Regions from separate parts of the Homo sapiens genome. Here regions 2 and 3 are each linked to region 1. Evidence: fine-mapped expression QTL. A gene starts in region 1. Each other region holds a variant in brackets. All regions are shown on one strand. Distances are between the middles of the regions. Region 1 holds the start of EFNA5 (ephrin A5). Region 2 overlaps EFNA5 (ephrin A5). Region 3 has its middle 230 kb from the start of LINC01950.

What was found. PIP is the estimated chance that this variant, and not a neighbour inherited with it, causes the effect.
Region 2: its variant is the best candidate, but not a certain one, in a credible set for the expression of EFNA5 in blood mononuclear cells (TOPMed, PIP 0.64).
Region 3: its variant is the best candidate, but not a certain one, in a credible set for the expression of EFNA5 in tibial artery (GTEx, PIP 0.74).

What each region holds. Positions count from the first base shown.
Region 1 is chr5:107,668,078-107,673,077 of GRCh38, forward strand. It overlaps EFNA5 (ephrin A5), which reads right to left and starts at 2,860. Exons shown (of 5, transcript NM_001962.3): 1 at 2,412-2,860. The coding sequence starts at 2,536. RefSeq lists enhancers at 2,013-2,092, 2,493-2,622, 3,333-3,472 and silencers at 2,253-2,322, 2,893-2,942, 4,303-4,372.
Region 2 is chr5:107,497,882-107,505,506 of GRCh38, forward strand. All of the region lies in intron 1 of EFNA5 (ephrin A5), which reads right to left. Among named protein-coding and RNA genes, the nearest start is that of EFNA5, 170 kb to the right of the region's middle. RefSeq lists an enhancer at 1,309-1,810. The variant G/A (reference allele first, on the strand shown) is at 4,172.
Region 3 is chr5:107,234,882-107,242,506 of GRCh38, forward strand. No RefSeq gene overlaps it. Among named protein-coding and RNA genes, the nearest start is that of LINC01950, 230 kb to the left of the region's middle. The variant G/A (reference allele first, on the strand shown) is at 3,637.

The sequences.
Region 1 (5,000 bases):
TAACATACCAAGATAAATGTGTCCATAAATTCCTAAGAATAATAAGTGTTAGGGCTGTATCTCTTGGGGTTAAGAGGGGTACATCATTCTTTCTTTTGGCCATTATCAAACTGATAATGATCAAATAGAAAGGTAATTCTACAAACCTGAAGTTAGAATACCGATTTAGAAATACTCTTGGTATTTTAAAATTCTGCAGATTAACTTTGTCTGGGCAGGTTCAAAGCCTCCATGGCATCCTGAGCAGAAGAGTTTTCTGCAGGCAGGGCAGATCTATTAAAAAACATGACCTGTGACAAAAATCAATGTGCTAATCTCAAACCAAACAACAGTATCAAAAGCACAAAACAGAGATAACCTAAGATAAAATGTCCTCAAACTAACTCAGACTAGCTTGACAGGTTAAGAAGGGGGGTTAAAGTAGGGGTGTTGCTGGTTCTTTCCGTTTTAACCCAGGAAGACTGGAACACCCAAGTATCCAAATAAATGAATGCCATGAGAAAAAGATCACAATGTGGAGCTTGGTGTGGGAAAGAAAAGACAACCGAGAGCAAGATATCCCAAATTCAAAGAAACTATTTCAGTGTTGCTTTATTTAATAAGGTGCTAAAGTTCAGAGATACAAATTTCTGCTTCGTATATGCTGCCTAATAAAGCACAAACGGGGAAAAAAAACTAACCAACATAATGAGACTGGCTTTTAACACCATCACAACTGGAAAGCTTGCTCTATTTGTCTTGTCAGCTTTAATAAAAGGCATCTCTCCTCTGGCAGGATGGCTTCTTTTTCTCTTTTCCTAATAGTGGTAAGTGGCATGTCAAAGAAGAAATCGCTTCCCATTCCACCACCCACCTCCAGGAGACTCTTGTTTTTTGAACCAAACTTTCAGGAATATCTCCACTCCTGTTCAGCGGTTCATTTAGGACTTGGGCGGCTACCTGAGTAAGACTATCTTGGACTAGCGGGATAGGGGGAACTCCCTCCTGGTTCTGTAACCGGCGGACTGCTTGTGGGGAAATCTTCCCATCTTCATCTGCGCTGACATTATTCAAGCAGGGAATCCCTCTCTTGCCTGCATGCTGAGGGGAGGCTGGAGGCAGGCGGAGAGGGCCCGCAGGAGATAGAAAAAACTGGAGGCGCCCACCGATACCCTCTCTCCTGGAGCCCGGGGCGCGCACCAACTCTTAGGCTAACCCCTCGGCCTCCCGCCTCTCTCTTCCCAACTTCCACTCCAGCCCAGTGAAAAACCTGTGACTTTAGATGCAATCGGTACTATTAATAAATAGCACCTAGGAGGGCACCGAGACCGGCACACAGCTGGAAGCTAGCCTCTGTCCCAGAGAAAGCAGTGCGGTATGGGCCTAGCGGGGCCGACTTCTGTGCACAGGCCGGGAAGCAATAAAGGTTCGGAACTGCTCCAGACCCGGAGGACCCCGCCGGGCACTCTGGATAACCTCCCCACTCCACTTCCAGGGTCCGAAAACACGGGACGTCTGCGACTGGCCGGTGTCCAGCACGCGCACTAGGACCGCCCCCGGCGCCCACCTCTAGTCTCCCGCATACCCGGCGGGCTTCGGGACGCCTACAAATCGGTTCCAGGTAATCGCGCGCGTTCCTCCGGCAGCACATCGCCAGGCCGCGGGCGAAGGGCTCCCACCTCCTGGCTCGGCCAACTCTGGCAGCTTGTTCTGCACACATGACGTAACCCGGCATTAGATCAAACTTTCTGGCACCTTGAACCCACTGGGGTGGGTGGAGGGATGGAGAAGATGGGAGAATCCTCTCCACTGCCAGGCGCGCCGGGCCCAGACTGACTCAGGGGCCGAATGATTTCCTCGCAGTTGAAGAGGAAAATAAAAACCTAAAGCTTCCGCTTCCCAGCCCCCCTCACTTCCCCCAGCCCGTGCGCTCTCTCTGCGCGCACCGGGAAAAGAGAAGGGAAAATTAAAATTAAAAAAAAAAAAAAAAAAAAAAAAACTTTGGGGGATGTTTGGCGGGTTCTCTCCGCAGTCCCTGCGGACCCACGCTCCAGGAAGGAGCTCCCGGCTGCGCACACTGGGGGCTCCCCGCGCCGGGAACCGGATGCCAGCCAGATGCCGGGGCTGGGAAGCAGAGAAGTCCCTACTCCCCGGCTCCCGCCCTTTTCCGAGTCTCCCGGCGCCCCGCAGAAGCAGTTGGTCTAGGCAGCCCCGGGGACTCCCAGGGGTACCTGGCCTTTCCGCGGCGGCTTAACAAAGAGGGGCGCGACGCGAGCGCTTCCCGCCGACGCCTCAAGCCATCAGCGCCCGGGCGACGCAGGCTCCGAGGGTGCGCGCCGCCAGCGGTTGGTGCGCGCCGATCCCCGCCGCCGCTCCTTCCGCAGGGCCCCGAGGCCCGGGTAGCCCTGGCTCTCCGCCTGTTATCGGCTTACCTGGGGTTGCTGCTGTTCCAGTAGACAGCGTAGCGGTCGGCGACGGCCTTGGAGCCCGGGTCCTGGCTGAACACACACATCCAGAGCACCAGAAACACCAGCGTCAACATCTCCACGTGCAACATCACGCCTGGCCAGCGGCGGAGCCCCCGACGCGCCACTCCGGGGAGAGAGCGGGGATCCGGAGGGAGGGAGGCAGGCAAAGGGACAGAGAGAGAGCGGGCGCCAAATAAATATGAATAAATAAAAATGAAAGTGGGCGAGAAAGGAAAGAGGCGCCCACCAAGCTGGGGAGGGGTAGGAGAGCGAGAAGAAAAGAAGGCGGTGGGATGGGGGGTGATAAAGACAAACTCGCACCCCCACTGGAGGGTTCAGGAGGAAAAAGGAATCACAAGATGGAGAGAAGCGTGCGTGTGTGTGGTGGCGGCGGCGAGGGCGGGGGAAGAGGTGCCAAGCTGTGTCTCGGGCGGCGGCGGCAGGCCGGTCACCCCGGGAGAGGGAGGTGCGCGCCGGGCCGGGCGGCTGCAGCGCGGGTCGGGGCAGGCGGCGGCGCGCGCTGCACAGTCACCGGGAGTTGCGCGCCGCAGCCGCGGGGAGACATACACCGGCCCGCCGGGCCCGGCTCAGCGTCGGCGCAGCAGGCTACGCACGGCTCCGCCACCGCCCGGGGCCCTCGCACTGCGCCACGCTTCGCTCCAAGTTACTTTGGCGGCCGGTGGGAAACTGCAGGAGAAGGGCGACGTGCTGATAGAGGGCTTCGCGCTTGTGGTCCCGGGAGTCTGAGAACCCCTTTCCTCAGCCTCCTCTGTGCCTTAGCGGGGCGACCCCCAGAAATCTCAGAGGAGTCGTAAGTGCTGCGGTACCGGGCGGTGCGCCGAGAAGGGTGGGGATCCGGAGCCGCAACCCAGCCTTGTCGGTGTCCTGGAACTGGTTAAGCGGCAGCTGCGCCGGCTTTCGAAGCGGTCTTGCCTCGAAAACCTCAAAGAAAAGTTTGGCTCTTCGCGTCTTCCGGCAGGTCCCCCAGCAGAGTCGGAACGCGGCGGTAGCGGAAGAGGGCACCCCGGGGGCTGGCCGAGCCTCGGGGATTTCTCGCGCGTGCTTTCCTTGGCTGGGTGTGGGTGCACCACAGTGAATGAAGAGCAGAGGTTAAGACCAGCCGGCCTGGCAGAGCTGGGATTCCTAAACCTGCAAGACGACGCCAACCCAACTGTTCGGCTGGAGAGCGGGAGGGGAAACAATCACTTTCAAATGGATCCCTCCAACTCCTGGATGGGCCGATGTCAGTCTCCGATCGCCTTCCGAGAGGGAGACTGAGCCCCCACACGCGGTGCCAAGAGCCCGGGGTGAGCTCTCAGAAGTGTCCCTGCGACTCCAGCGGGTCCAAGCCTAGCAACTTGTAGAGATGCATCAATCAGTTTGAAATGGGAAAAGAGGAAAAAAAAAAAGCGCACGAGCGAGTGGCACCTCCCCGATGACTACATCAGAAAACCTTCCCGATCCTCCCGCAGCTGCTCCTCTTTCCCTCCTTAGGCACAGCAGCAACAGAGGTGAAAACCACAAACCGAATCCTAAAACCCCTACCCAGGCGGGAAAATAAATAAACTTGAGTGCAGCAGCAGCAGCACGAGCAGCCCAGGAGGAATTGAAACGACTGGCAAGAAGTGGAAAGGGTTTTGTAAAAGTCAGTTTTGCAAAAGAGGGGGAAAAAAAGAGAGCGAGAGAAAAAATGCTTTATGGGAAAAAAAATCTCCTCGGGCACGCCCCCTCGTTAATGACTTGCGTGGAAAGCCGACAGCGGCGGCGACCCAGTGGCAGCAGCCTCAGCAGAGCGCGAGGCCGCACGCGTGAACGTGGACGTGGGCGGGGGGATGGGGCTCCGCCCGGGCGTGTTGCGCGGGACGCGGGACGGGCGGGCGGCGCGAGCGCGGGTGTGAGCTCCGGACGAAGCAGGGGGAGGTGCCGCCAGCCCGCGCCCAGCCAGCGCTGCTGCCGCTGCGGCCCGGGTCATGTGGACTGTCTTTTTTTTTTTTTTTTTTTTTTTCCTCCTTCCAAGCAGTTTACTTGGGAAGGGTGGGAGCGCGGTGGGGGGATAGCTGGAGCAACCAGTCAGGGAACGGCCTACTGTTTGCTTACAGATTGGGGGTTTTTCCTCTCTCTTTACTCCAACCGGATTGGTTTGCTCCACGAGAAAGAGGCGTTTTCCTAATCTCCCTTCCCCACGCCTCCTACCCCCTCCCCCGCCCCACCTTCTAGAAACCTGACTAATTGAATTACTGGGAGTGCCGAGGCGCCCTCTCCTGCGCCGGAGCCCGGCAGCCACGTGTAACCCTTTGGGTGCTGAATTCCGTCTGGGCTAAGGAATGATTTGACATCTTTTTACCTGGGAGTAGGGTCTTTCGATTTTAAAGGAACCTGTGCCCACCCTTTGGCTGGAGAGCCGGCATCTGTCTCTGGTGCCCCGCAGGTGACGGATGGGCTGGAACGGAGCCTCAGGGAGTGCGCGTTCCTGTCCATTCCACCCGCTCTCCACGCCGCACGCTGCCTGGCGCTGGGTTATCTGGAAGTCTGAGCACCCCTCCTGTGCCTTTC
Region 2 (7,625 bases), 170 kb before region 1:
GCATGAAGTTTACCATTTATCTTTATTTTTATTATTAGTAGTATTATTTTTTGAGACGGAGTCTCAATCTGTCACCCAGGCTGGAGTGCAGTGGCGCGATCTCGGCTTACTGCAGCCTCGGCCTCCTGAGTTCAAGTGATTCTTCTGCCTCAGCCTCCCAAGTAGCTGGGATTACAGACATGTGCCATCATGCCCAGCTAATTTTTGTATTTTTAGTAGAGACGGGGTTTCACCATGTTGGCCAGGCTGGCCTTGAGCTCCTGACCTCAAGTGATCCGCCTTTCTCGGCCTCCCAAAGTGCTGGGATTACAGGCGTGAGCCAACAAGCCCGGCCTACAATTTATCTTTATATGGTACAGTGACAGTTTCAATGCAAATATAAGAGCATTTAACTTACATGTGGAATAATATGACACAACCTTTTTTCATAGCTCATACACGTATATTTATTTCATTCTTACTAGGGCAGTGGAAACACTACACAACTAACTCAACTGAAACTCACTCACAAATTTCTTGATTCATGCATATTATACCAACACACTACAGGAACAGACAGCTTCCATAATCCACTTACTTTCTACTCCCCTGGAGCTTCCCTGGACCCCCACACATCATAGTCTATCAGAATTCTGTATTTGTGAAAAACTGTGAATGTGATATGCAGATAGTGCCACAATGGACAAACAAACATATCACACATCGCCTCGGCTCATGAAGATGCTCCATTTATGAAACACTAGTTCAAAGATAAAATTCAGAATTTTGAGACAGTGACAGCGGAGCCTTAAGCCAAGTATGGGGCCCTTCTGAGCTCAGGGCCCTGTGTGACAGCACAGGTTGAATGCCATGAAGCTAGCCCTGCACCTCAGACCTCTGGCCAATATGCTTAGAGGGACTATTCCTGAATACTAATAATGAGGCTTTCCAAGGAGGTAGGTTTGATGCCAATGTACACACTGTGATAAGGCTGCAGGGGATAGACTACATATGGTGATTACCCTGTAAATTACCTGTTCATATAGTTTCCCCAGGTTGTGTCGTTGGGGCCTGTGCTTTTCTTTATGTATATAAGTATGTATGTATGTATGTATGTATGTATGTATGTATGTGTATCAGCCAAAGGAGTCTTTGATTTCTTTTACTGTGAGATTTCCATTGGAAACAGACACCTGCTTTGCTCTCTTCTCCTTTTTCATTATCATAACCAAATAGCAAGCACATAGATTTTGGTTAGTCATTCTAAATCGAAAGACACAAATATATATAGGAAGATGTCAAAAAAAGAGAAGAAAGATGAAATTTTTTTTTAAATCGGGAGAAAGTAAACATACCCTCAATACTTAAATCTCCCACAATGCACAACAATAAACCTGCCCTGATATGGGCACTGCCAGGGATATACTCTTCTCCCTTTCTGTCTCTGAGTAACAACAGGTTGCAACTAGTTTGAATTAAAGAGCCTGCATCTGCAGCCAACAGCTGGAATTCGGCAACTGTTGTTAATCCACCTTAATTGCTTATTATTCTATGAGTCCTTGTTTGTGCTTTTGTTATTCAAAGTAATTTTCCCTACATGCACATACTACCAAGCATGGTTTTAGCAAGCTGTGGCCAAAGAATTCCTGTGTTTCCATCCTAGGGCTGTCATTGTTTTCTTTTGAAACAAAAACATATTGACACTGGATTTTTTTAAAGGGTTAGCAAGTTAGCAGTGATGCCCACAGATGGACTAGCATTGGCCTATATGTGCACAGAGATACAGGTATTAGCCAACGTCTAAATAAGAACAAGTCTTCTTTTGGTGTTTTAATTAGAGCTGCAGTTAGCAGGGTTGCTATTTTCCCTAAACAATTCTTCCCCTCCTTGAGTTAGGGAGGGATTTTCACTCCACCACTTCATTGCACTAGTGAATAAATGAGATCCCAGGGTTCCAGGGAGAAAAAAAATTACCAATATAAATGCATCAGGTGCAAATTACCAAGGTAAATAGGCCCATGGAGACTGTAAAGCTAGCAACACCAACTGGAATATCTGAGAGGGGCCAGCAGGAGAAAGCCCATGGGTCACAGTCTCAGTTCTGCAGTGTACTGTGTGTGTTTCAACCCGGATCATTCATCCTGCAGCCTGCAGAAAGGAATCCACAGCACAAAGCAGTTGTGATTTGGCATTGACAGTGTTCTAACTAATGCTTCAGTTGTAGCTTTTCTATTCCCCTCTCTTTTTATTCACCCAAATGCCACTCTTGGATAGTGTCAAAGCAGAACCTCCATTGTGAGAGACCAATGCAATATAATATCTCCAACTATAAGTTGATCATTAGTAATTATTTGTTCCCTGGAACTATTTATAATCTGCAATAAGGAAAAACTGCCACAAACATCACTATTAACTGTGGTCTGTAGGGCACGAAGGCTGATCTTTTACGTTTTCCCTACAATGTATACGTATATCTGCTAAAGAAAGTATTTGTAGCTCTGCATTTCTTCTTTCTGTTGCTCTTTACTGCAAAGTCTTTCTTGTTCTGTAATAATTTTGCCAGGGTAAGCCTAGTCCCACTGTAAGCTTCACATAAAGCAAAGACCTGTCATATACTTGTCTCTCCCAGAGTGCAGCACTATTTACTGACCTGAGTTCAATTTTTTTCTAGAAGAGAGCAGGCAAGGCTTTCCATTAGCCTGGCTTTGTTTCCACCCAACCCTATCCTCATATGGTGTGGCTGTCTCACCTCTTACCCTCTTATACATGTAGCCTGAATGCACACTTGTTAGTCTTATTTATTACCCTATTTGTGTACTGAAGCACATGTCCCTTAAAAATTAGCCTGCTCTACCCTGACTGGAACATGAAATTCTGCAGGCATCTGAGCATATATTCAAATATAATAAAAGGGCTATATTATAACAAAGGTCTTTAAGGGATATTTGCCTGGCCCTTAAATCACCTTGACTTTGTTTCTTCAAATAGCAAGTACCTAAAAAATATTCATTAAAAAAAAACAAAACAAAAAGGTTTCCTGTGAACATTTCAGCCAGGATTGTTCATCCTGAAGCCTGCAGGAAGAAACCTGTGAACAAGTGAGTGGGAGAATTCACAGTGGAGTCAGCTCCAGCTCCTAACTCTTACTATTTATTCATACCTGGTGTCGTCTTGGTTTTATGCTTCCTGTTTTAGAGCATGCATCAGGCTAGATAAGGACATATTGTGTGCATAGTATAAACTAATATGAGGACAACTTCTACAAGCCTTCTACAGCATATAGATCAAGTGTCATTCTTAAAGCCACAGGCCCTTGTTAAAACAATTTATTTGCATGGATTAAGCCTCACTTATAGATATTGACTCAACTATATGATTTTGTAAATATTTTTTTAAAATATTCTGTTTCTTACTTAGGATATTTCTTACCTCCTGCACAACACAACATCAACTATACAATCAATAAGATACAGTCTTTAGCTACAAATTAAGCTTCTTATTTTATCTGTGTAACAATCATTATGTGGTTTAATGATGATCTGCAGTCTTAAATACATTATATACTGTTATATCAGAGATGACATAAAAGTACAGATATTATAGCTTATGAAATCAGCCCCTCCTTAATCAGTTTGGCAATAAACCAAATTGCCCTGATTTAGCAAAGAAATTCTCAGAAACTATTTTTCTCATTCAACATTTGTGATTTTAATTCTTTAAAAAATATTTCAGTGTCTTATTTTGCACAACCATTCACTATTTGTTTGAAAAACTTAAAACTGTAATATCATTTTAATACAGTCATTATAAACTAAAAGTTAAGATACATACTATCGGCTACATTTCTGTTGTGGTATTTTAAGCCTCACTTTGTTGAAGCAGCAATTATTTTCATAACCTGAATTAACGAATGCTGATTTTGTACGTGAAAAGATGGACAGAAATGTCACACTTTAATTCACGCCATTAAACAAACAAAAAACGGCCATAAGGTCAAAATAATAGAACTAGATGAAAAAAGTAGTCGATCTAGAATCCTGTGAAATTTTCTCTGATTTAAACTGTTTCTTGCCTTAAAGAAAAGTACTGCAGCTGTGATACAACTATGAGCCCTCCTCCCTTTAAAAGCTGATGTCAGTGAGAAATACCCCATCTGATGGGTTTTCAAGATGTACACCGGGCATTGCCTACG[G/A]AAGTTAGTTAATTACACCAACCTGCGGCTGTTAGCAATGAGGACTGCCCCTCTTCACCCAACGTAGGGCAGAAACCAATCCTCTCAGTTCACCGATCTAATTCCAGTTTTCAGGCACACTGGCCATCCACTGCCTCCTTCCCTTCCCTCTCCAACTCTTAGAAAACGAAATGCAGTTAATTTATGTTCATTTTATCCATTTCCTCTCATGACTCACTGCAACAGGAAACTGCCGTCTCTGTTGTGTTTAGACCAGTCTCGTCTTAGCCACGAGCTAACAGTATCATCATTTAGAAAGATCCCTCATCATGCCACAGTCAACATCAAACTGTTCCTCGACATTCTGAATTTATCTAGCACATCTTCCCTATCTGATGCAAATGAACCGGCAATCATTTTAGGAAGCAGTGCCTTAAAGAATTGTGATCCTGACACAATTGCTGTGGCGGTTTACTCATTACATTACGAAGCACAGCTGTATCTTGTTGTTTCATCTGTGGGGCTTTTGACAGCACATAACTGCTGAAAAGCATGTACATGGGGTTGATATATACACACACATACATACATACTCAGGACGTGCAAAGGAGAACGTGGCCGTGCTCGAAGTGTATCAAACTATGACTTCTAAATTCCTTTCCATCAAATGCCAGTAGAAGCACTTGATAAATGGACCCTAGGAGAGCACTTCTCATTGCCTCAGGATGGAACGACTCGCAGGCATACGACACTCCATCAATACAGAGAGCTGGCAGATTGAAAGGCGGGAAGGACTATCTCTGATACGGTGCATCTGCTTACTAATAGCAGCAGCACTCCAACCCTCTTCCCATTCATTGCCTACAGGAACCACTCCTCAGAGAGGCACGCCAGTCAACAGATGGTCTCTGGCTAAGGTGTAATCAGGAGCAGCTTGCTAAATTTACCCAAAACAAATAGAATTACAGGCTTTTGCCCGAGTCTGAAATTGAATTGAGAACTTGGGTGGTGGATAATGGAAGCTAAAATGGAAGAGCTCAAAATGCATCACAGCATGTTGGGAAAGGGCGGGCACAGGGTGCAGTTTCAGCTGTGAACTCCACTGTTTACTACCAGGTCATCTATTGCCAATAAACTTGTCTACTATGCAGGATCGTTTCCCCTCAAGATCAAAGCTTCCAGGATTGGTAAAATTGTCACCAGTTAATGAAGTCATCTGCCTTCGGTGCACAGTGAACAAAATACTACCTGATGTTTTGAATATGTTTTGCCCAGTTGCAATGCCTTCACGTAAAATGTCAACAGTTCTAACCATCCTACTTTCATTAGCAGTTTTTATGTCCACTAAAAATCTGTCATTCAAAAGGTAAGAATCATTAAGGATTCTGAATAATGTGATCTTCTAAGAAGAGGTGTTCCGATGTCTATCTCCAGAATTCCTCGCTGTTTTCAATCATTCGTTGCTCAGAATACAGGCAACATAAAGCCTCAGAAATTGCCTGAAAAAGTCAGCATAAAATTAAGAGTAAATCATTTAACCTATGGCTATGTTTCACTACTTACGTAGTAAGAACTGTGCCACCCACACAAATCACTGTATCATGAAGCTTTAAAAGTAAATGAGGCAAAATATGTAAAAGCACTTAAATTATAAAGAGATAAGGTCTTAAGGATAAGGCTATTTGTAACCCAAGCTATCAGCAGTCACTTTAAAATTATTATCTTCATAACCATTAATATTTTTTATTACTAAATTGTTTACCCATTAAAAAGGCCATTAAAAAATTAAAAATTTCAGTTTCTAATATTTTATTGTTTTCTAATCTTCTTTGGAAATAAAAAGATGTGTATTTTGTATTTTACATCATTCAGTATTTGCAATGCAGAGCTTTTAAAATGTATTACAGCATGCATTGAATTAGCTACCTTTAAACTAATAATCAGGCAATTCTCCTCATTCTTCATGACTTAAAATCCCATTATGGAAAATTCACTTTTATACATCAATCAGTCTAACATTTTCAAACATCAGTTATATAAGAAGTATCTGAAGTACCTCCTATTTTCTTCGAGCATTTTGTTGTAAGGAACTCTGCCATGCAGAGAAGGAATCCCAAAAGAAAGGTCTTTTTTGTTCAGGATGAAAGTATTTAAAGAGAGGGTATTTTTTAAATTAACTAAAAAAAGAGCTTCATTCTTAAGGTTTGAATTACAGACTGACAAGGGCTAAAATATCTTTTAACATAATTATTTTTTAAAGTAACTGACTTGAAATGAAACTAGCATTTTTCTTAAATGAATGCTGTTAAGTAAAGCAAAATGTGTCCCTACACTCGAAGAGGATACATTTTTAGTGATATGTTATATATATAAAAAAGAACTAGATGCTAAAGCTACCTTACTAAAATATGTGTCTTCTCTATTTGGAGCTTTATCTGCTATTCTCTCTTCTTTTATAGAAATAGAAAATGCATTATTAATGTACAAATAATATGCATGCTTATAGGAACAAACATTTTGAGCTGCAGAATAAACTAATGAAAAGAGCACAGACAGATACAGATATCTAATTACTACATTACCCTGGGCAAATCATTTAACTGCTCTATGATTCAGTCTGCCCATCTGTAAAATCAGTGGAACAGCTTCCCTACCTATCCCCAAGATATTTGGTAGGAGTACATGAAAAAGTGTTGTCGAAGCCTATTTAGGCACCAAGCTTAAAAGGTCTGGCACATGTTTGTGAAAGTACAATTATAATGATTTTCATTACTATTCTAGTAGACTCTGAATTTTAATCTTTAGGAATAACCCTAATTATTTTATTTTAAAATGCTTCAAAAATATAGCTATAACAGAAAAACCTGTCATATAACTAGTAGTAAAATTTTGGCCCTATAATATCATCCTATTTATTATTCAATTATTGCTTCAATAAACCAATGTATGTATAAAAGGTAGCCTTTGTTTTTCCGTATCTTTAATGCAATTTGTTCTGAAAAACTACTGTGACATTAATAATAAAGGACAAGCTCTGTAAAGAAAAGGTGCCTAACAAAAACTTGGCAATGATCTCCATTCAAAGCAAAAATGCTATGAATTTTAAGATAAGGGACCTGTTATATGTTAAGTAAAAATATTCGTAGTTTATAATTTGTGAAGCAGTAGGCATTGCATAACTCTGAGAAAAAATGCTGTTCATTATATGAATGGCAATTTCAAATAATATCAAATGATTTAAGTTCAAAGGACTTAGGAAAGCTTCATGGCATCCTGTTATTAATTTCACAAAAATTTCTTTAGAAAAGAAACTGAGTCCTACATGAAAAATGTAAAACTACAAGGTGCACTGTGTACTGATTCTCCATGCAACAAATCTGCAAACATTGCCTAGGGCATGCTATATGGGAAATCTGGACAGCTGGAAATCATAGTAGACAAGGAGATTTAGGTCATTGATCTCAGAATTGGAAAA
Region 3 (7,625 bases), 430 kb before region 1:
CATGGTTCAGGCAAACAATATATCCATTTCCTGGAAGGAAATAAATGCTTAAACACTTTATAGAAAAGGCTTTGTCTGTGTGTATTTAGCTGTTACAATCTCTTCAAATAATGTTAAATGTGAAAAAGATACAACTATCCACAATACTCAAACGTAATACATGGCATTCATAAACAAATATGATTTCCAGCACCATGAGTGGAACTTGACTTTCAACCTATTTCTATATTTCAGTTTATAAAACAACTATCCTCTAGATCCCCAATCCATTGATTTCAAGGAGAGTTTAACTTTTTTATCGCATGTTAATTGTTCAGCCCCTGTGTACATCCACCGAGAGAGAGAAGCCTGGATGTATAATGCAAAGCGCTGTACATTTTTGGTTAGCAAACTCCAGAACAAAAAAAATCTCTGGTAGCCTATTTTGACAATTCTTATAATTTGCGGTGATGTTTTCATTACAGTGTGTCACACAGGAAGCCACAAAAGGATTAGATATAGACCAATTCATCCACATTTCTTCCAGCCAGTAATCACATTGCTGCCCGCCAATGTTCTTAACTTCCTTAGTGCCAACTCTTCCATTTACCATATAGAATTTCCCCTAAATTTGTTAAGAAATAGACGCACCACATAGGCAAAAATGCCATTATCTGCATTTTATTAAGCTCTGTGATTTGATCTTTCAGAAGTATCTGAGCCCACAACAAGATGAATGTCGGGTCTGACAAAAACATGCCAGTGGGATTTTGAAAACCACAGAGAGATTCTATAGGAAATATTAGGAAAGAAGAGGGCAGAAAAAGGTGACCTGGGGAAAAAAGATAGATTCTATAAAATTGGATCCATGCTACGCCTTCCTTATGGCCTTACAGAGTATATGTTGAAAATCCAGAAATCATGTGCACTTTATCCAAACCTGAATTAAAAAAAAAAAACTATAGCTTTATTGGACTAATAAAAACCAGGTAATATGATTGCTGACACAATGGAAAGGTCACATTGGAAACTTTATATTTTACATTTTTCTTCCTTTAGTTCCTGAATTACTTTTTTATAGGTATGGAGGTACCCAATACTCTTTATGGTAACAAAACCATTTTAAAACTTTGAGTCTTTTCACCAATTAAAGAAGCTATTTGCAACATTTCCTTTATTAAGAATATTTTATTTCAGTAATTTTATGTGATGCTATGAAGCATTTGACAGGGTTGAAATTTTTTTTCTTAAAATTTTCCTTTCTTGACATTCAAAATGAGTCTCCTGGTTCAAGACCAGATTCCCTGGATATTATTCCACCATTTCCATCCCAGGTTTCGCTTCCTCCACATGCCCTTTAATGAAAAATTTTGTTTTACCCTCTTCTTGCTCTATACTCTGAGTAATCTCATTCACTTCCATAGCTTTAGCTATCACCTCTAAAATGCTGCTTTCTAGCCCTAACCTCTGTTCTGAACCTCAGATTCAAATTTTTAACTGCTGAACATACATTCATCTACAAAGACGCTACATCATTCATTAATTCAGCTGTCAATTTAACATATGCATTCATTAATTCAGCTGTCAATTTTATTAACATACACATATGTGTATAATATATTATCTTTATTTTCATATTATCTTTCATTAATAAAATTATATATGCATAATATATGCATATAATTTAAAATATAACAACACATATATAGAAATGCATAGTAACATAAATACTGCTTTTTCCCCCTCACATGCTGGTTTTTTTACAACTATATCCTACTGTCTTGCAAACAACAGGCTTCTATAATTGCATATTTTGTTCTCGTTGCTTTCCACAGCACTTTTTGCATAACTTTACCATAATATTTTTATACAGTGAAGCAATTATTCACCTACCTGCCTGTGTCCCCCATTACAAAGATCATTTTAAGTGCAATGAGCATTTTTAAAAATTAATCTTGCATCACTACCATTCAGAAGAGTGCCTAGCACAAAGGAAAAATTCAATCAATGTTGACAAATGGATGAATCAATCATGCAATTCTGATTTTATTATCTTCACCTTTCTCACTGTTACAGTTCTTTAGTTCAAAAGGTACACAATTATAGGCTGGGTGCGGTGGCTTACACCTATAATCCTAGCACTTTGGGAAGTCAAGGCAAGAGGATGACCTGAGGTCATGGGTTCAAGACCAGCCTAGCCAACATGGTGAAAACCCCTCTCTACTAAAATTACAAAAATTAGCGAGGCGTGGTGGTGCATGCCTGTAATCCCAGCTACTCAGGAGGCTGAGGCAGAAGCATCACTTGAACCTGGTAAGTGGAGGTTGCTGTGAGCCGGGATAGTGCCACTGCACTTCAGCCTGGGTGACAGAGTGAGACTCCGTCTCATGATAAAAAATAAAAATTTTAAAAAAGAAGGTACACAATTATAATCTCTCCCACTTGAACTTCATTCATTGTATAATGCACATTTTCCTAAATCTTACAGTTCAAGTTTTATCCTTAGTAAATTGCTCAGTGTCTTTGGAAGAGTGATGACATTTGTTGTCATATGGTTACCAATGTAATGATAGAGTAGAGAATGGCTGATTAATTCTTTGTTTCTGATCAAAGCAGCATAAATATAAGCAGGTCTTTGAGCCCTTCAACAGGCTACAACCTCCCACTAACTCTTTGCATCCAGCCTTCCAATGTAGATTTGGAATTTACAGATCCTTCTGTTTCTTTTCCTCACCTCATCCAAGAGATTTGTTTCTAGTCTGCTACTTTTGATGCTTCATGTCCTCAAAATTTCTCCTGTAATCCAATTTCAACACTTAAAATTCAACAATAATCAAATGGTGTATTTTTCATTACTATATTACTTGGGTAATGTAGTTTAAACATTTTTAAGTCAATTTGAGGAAATGTTAATGAATAAAATTACTGGCTGATGGAGAATGAAAACTATCTCTCAATAATTCACATTCTTATGAAAATAATTCCCCCAATTTTAGCTTTTTCCTTTTAGGTTGCATTTCCCTAGAACTTTCATTCACTCAACAAAGATTGAGCAATGGGCGTGTGCTTAACACTCTGATAACGCAGAAAAAGATATTAAAAAAAAAAAACCCACCCTCATGAAACTTGCATTCTAGTTGGAAGACAAATAATAAACAAAGTAATTAAGTAAAAAGCAAGTAGTTTAAACAATCAAAAGCACTAGGCATCAAAATTAAGCAAAAAAGTGGGGAAAGATGAAGGGGCATGCTTACATGTTGGATAGGGTAGCCAAGAAGTCCTCTCTGGAAATACAACATTTGGGTGAAGATCTGAACAATGTAAGGGAGTAAATGATGCAGATATCTAAAAGAGTATTCTCAACCAAGAGAAAAGCAAGTGCAAAGGGCCAGAGAAGAACGCCTGGTGTATTCCAGGAAATGCATGGAAGCCAATGAAGCTAGAGCTAAGGGAGACAGGTGGCAGATAATGGGTTTGGAGTGGGATGGATGGGTGAGGAAAACAGGGGGCATGACAGATTGAGTAGTCTCTTGTTGATTGTGTGAGAGTTTTGGCTTTACTCTGAGAAAGTTGGAAAGCTATCAAAAGATATTGAGAAAAGGAGAGGCTTTTCCTTATGTTTTAGCAGAAAAAACGTTGATTGCTGCATTGCAAATC[G/A]ACTATAGAAAGGCAAGGTAGAAGCAGGAAAACTAGAGGGCATTGAAATAATCCAGGCAAGAGAGGCCAGTGGCTTGGTCTAGAGTAGTAGAGAGGACGTGATGAGAAGCAGTTGGATTAGGGGTATTTTTTAAGGGTAAAGGCAAATTTTTTTCCCAGATTGGATGCAGTGTATCATAGTCTAGATATATAAAACCAAAGCCCCCACCCAAACATCTACAATGATATAATCAATTTCAAGCAGCATTTTAAAATCTTTCTTAAAGCTCCCACTCATTTCCACAACCAGTCTGTCACAAAATTCAGCCTTTTCCAATTCTGAAATATTTTCAAATCTTTCCCCTCCTCGCATGCCAACCACTCTACTTAAGGAACCTCATTATTTCTTCCCTGACAATTGCTATAATTTTTTAATGGGCTTTCTGGTTTCCAGTTTCTCCCATCTCTAACCCATCCTCCTCTAGGCTATCAGAACTGCATTGCCAAAACACAGACCTAACTGTGTCCCTCCTTTGTTTAAAATCTTCATTAAAGCTGCACTGCTACAGAGCAAGTCCCATAGCCCTACCTCTTCAGCCGCACCACCCAAAAACCCAAACACATCTATTCCACAAATCTTCCACATCCAAGTATGTGTTTGCCTTTGCTCATTCTGTACCTTCATTTGAATTCACTTTGCTTTAATATCACTGTCTCCCTGACCCATCCACTCAGGCCTGAAAAAAACACTCTGTTCAATCCATCCCTGTAGCCCCATGACACCATTTATAGGCACAGCAGGACAGCTATGACTCTATATTATGGCTAGAGGTCTGATATGGTTTGGCTGTGTCCCCACCCAAATCACATATTAAATTGTAGTTCCCATAATCCTCATGTGTTGTGGGAGGGACCCAGTGGGAGGTAATTGAATCATGGGGACAGTTTCCCCCATGCTGTTTTCATGATAGTGAGGGAGTTCTCATGAGATCTGATGGTTTTATAAGGGCCTTTTCCCCATTTTTCTCAGTACTTGTCCTTGCTGCCACCATATGAAGAAGGGAGTGTTTGCTTCCCTTTCTGCCATGACTGTAAGTTTCCTGAAGCCTCCCCAGCCATGCTGAACTGTGAGTGCATTTAACCTCTTTCCTTTATAAATTACCCAGTCTCAGGTACATCTTTATCAGCAGTGTGAGAATGGACTAATACAGTAAATTGGTACCGGTACAGTGGGATGCTGCTATAAGGATACCTGAAATGTGGAAGCGACTTTGAAACTGGGTAATAGGCAGAGGTTGGAACAGTATGGAGGGCTCAAAAGAAGACAGGGAAATGTGGGAGAGTTTGGAACTTCCTAGAGACTTGGAGGGCTCAGAAGACTTTTTGAATGGCTTTAACCAAAATGCTGATGTGGACAATGAAGTCCAGGCTAAGGTGGTCTCAGATGGAGATGAAGAACTTGTTAGGAACTGGAGCAAAGGTGACTTTTGCTATGCAAAAAGACTGGTGTCATTTTGCTCCTGCCCTAGAGATCTGTGGAACTTTGAACTTGAGAGAGATGATTTAGGATATCTGGCAGCAGAAATTTCTAAGTGGATATCATTCAAGAGGAAGCAGAGCATAAAATTTTGGAAAATTTGCAGCCTGATGATGTGACAGAAAAGAAAACCCCATTTTCTGGAGAGAAATTCAAACTGGCTGCAGAAATTTGCATAAGCAATGAGGAGCTGAATGTTAATCACCAAAAAAATAGGGGAAAATGTCTCCAGGGCATGTCAGAGACCTTTGTGGCAGCACCTCCCATCATAGGCCCAGAGGCCTAGGAGAGAAAAATGGCTTCCTAAGATGGGCCTGTGGCCCCCTTGCTGTGAAGAGCCTAAGGACTTGGTGCCCTGAGTCCTAGCTGCTCCAGCCATGGCTAACAGGGGCCAAGTTACAGCTCAGGCCATTGCTTCAGAGTGTGCAAGCCCCAAGTGTTTGCAGCTCCCTCCCATGAGCTTGTGGGTGCAAAGAAGTCAAAATTGAGATTTGGGAACCTACCCCTAGATTTCAGAGGATGTATGGAAATGACTGGATGTCCAGACAGAAGTCTGCTGCAGGGGCAGAGTCCTCATGAAGAACCTCTGGCTAGGGTAGAGCTGGAGGGAAATATGGGGTCAGAGTCCCCACACAGAGTCCCAACTGGGGCACTGCCTAGTGGAACTATGAGAAGACGACCACCGTCTTCCAGACTCCAGAATGGTAGATCCACCAATGGCTTGCACTGTGAGCCTGGAAAAGCTGCAGGCGCTCAATACCAGCCTAAGAAGCAGTCAGAAATGGGGCTGTAACCTGCAAAGCCGTAGGGGCGGAGCTGCCCAAGGCTGTGGGATTCCACCTCTTATACCAGTGTGCCCTGGATGTGAGACATGGAGTCAAAAGAGATCATTTTGGAACTTTAAGGTTTCATGACTGCCCTATTGGATTTCAGACTTGCATGGGGCCTGTGGCCCCTTTGTTTTGGCCAATTTCTCCCATTTGGAGCAGGTGTATTTCCCCAATGCCTGTAACGCCATTATATCTAGGAAGTAACTAACTTGCTTTTGATTTAGCAGGCTCATTGGTAGAAGGGACTTGCCTTGTCTCAGATAAGACCTTGGCCTTGGACTTTTGGTTTAATGCTGGAATAAGTTGAAATTTTAAGGGACTGTTGGAAAGGCATAATTGTATTTTGAAATGAGAGGACATGAGATTTGGGAGGGGCCAGAGATGGAATAATATGGTTTGGCTGTGTGCCCCCACTTGAATCTCATCTTGAATTATAGTTCCCATAATCCCTGGGAGGGACCTGGTTGGAGGTAATTAAATCATGGGGGCAGTTTCCCCCACGCTATTCTCATGATAGTGAGTGAGTTCTCATGAGATCTGATGGTTTTAGAAGGGGCTTTTTCCCCTTTTGCTTAGCACTTCTCCTTGCTGCCGTCATGTGAATAAGGTTGTGTTTGTTTCCCCTTCTGCCATGATTGTAAGTTTCCTGAGATCTCACCAGCCATGCTGAACTGTGTATCAATTGAACCTCTTTCCTTTATAAATTACCTAGTCTCATTTATGTTTTTATGAGCAGTGTGAGAACAGACTAATACATGGTCTGACCGTCTCCCATTCTATTCACTGTAGATAATGCCTAGTACATAAAAGATGCTTCAACAAATATGACAGAGTCAAAACCTATGGTAAATAAAAATATGTGTCTTATGCTTTTCCAAGCTTCCTTTGTCCTGGGCTTACACTAAGGCAGCCCAATGACTACCCCTTTCAAATTATATTATAGCAATATCTACCTATAAAGATCTACACCAGTCATACAGAGGGATGCTCCCCAGGAAGGAGCCTAAAAGTGTCTAAGCAAATAGCTTTCTCTCATTCCTCACCATTTGTGATAATCTGAATCGTTTGTCAGTGTTAAACAAATTACTTCATGAACTCTCTTCTCTAGACTGCCTCCACATTCTTATTCCTTTTAGTCTAGTGGTTATTTTTCTGCCTTCTTCACTAATTCCTATTTTTCTCTTAACATGCAAATCCTCATACACTGTCATCATACTTTTAATCTGCCATTATTATTGGTTTCTTTGCAGATGTTAATGACTCATAAACCTAAAGCTATACCCTGACCTTTCACCTAATCTCCCATCTTGCATTTCCAGATTCCTATATTGCTCAGATGCCAAACAACATTCACTGCATCTTCATTACCCACTTCAGGTCTTCTCTCCAATTATCCCTTTTTGTCTGAGGTAACTACTATTCTAATTTCTCAGCTTAAAATATTGAGGTTATCTTTGTATCTTTCTTTTAATTCATGCTTTACATCTAAATTAATAAGTATTTTTCCAAAATTCTTTGTGTTCTTTATTGTATCAACTCTGGACTCAGCTGTCATTATTTTATCTGGGCAAGAGCAGCTCAACTGGCCCTATTCACTCCAGAATCTTCCTTTTCTTCCTCCTCTTGCCTATGCCTGAAAGACT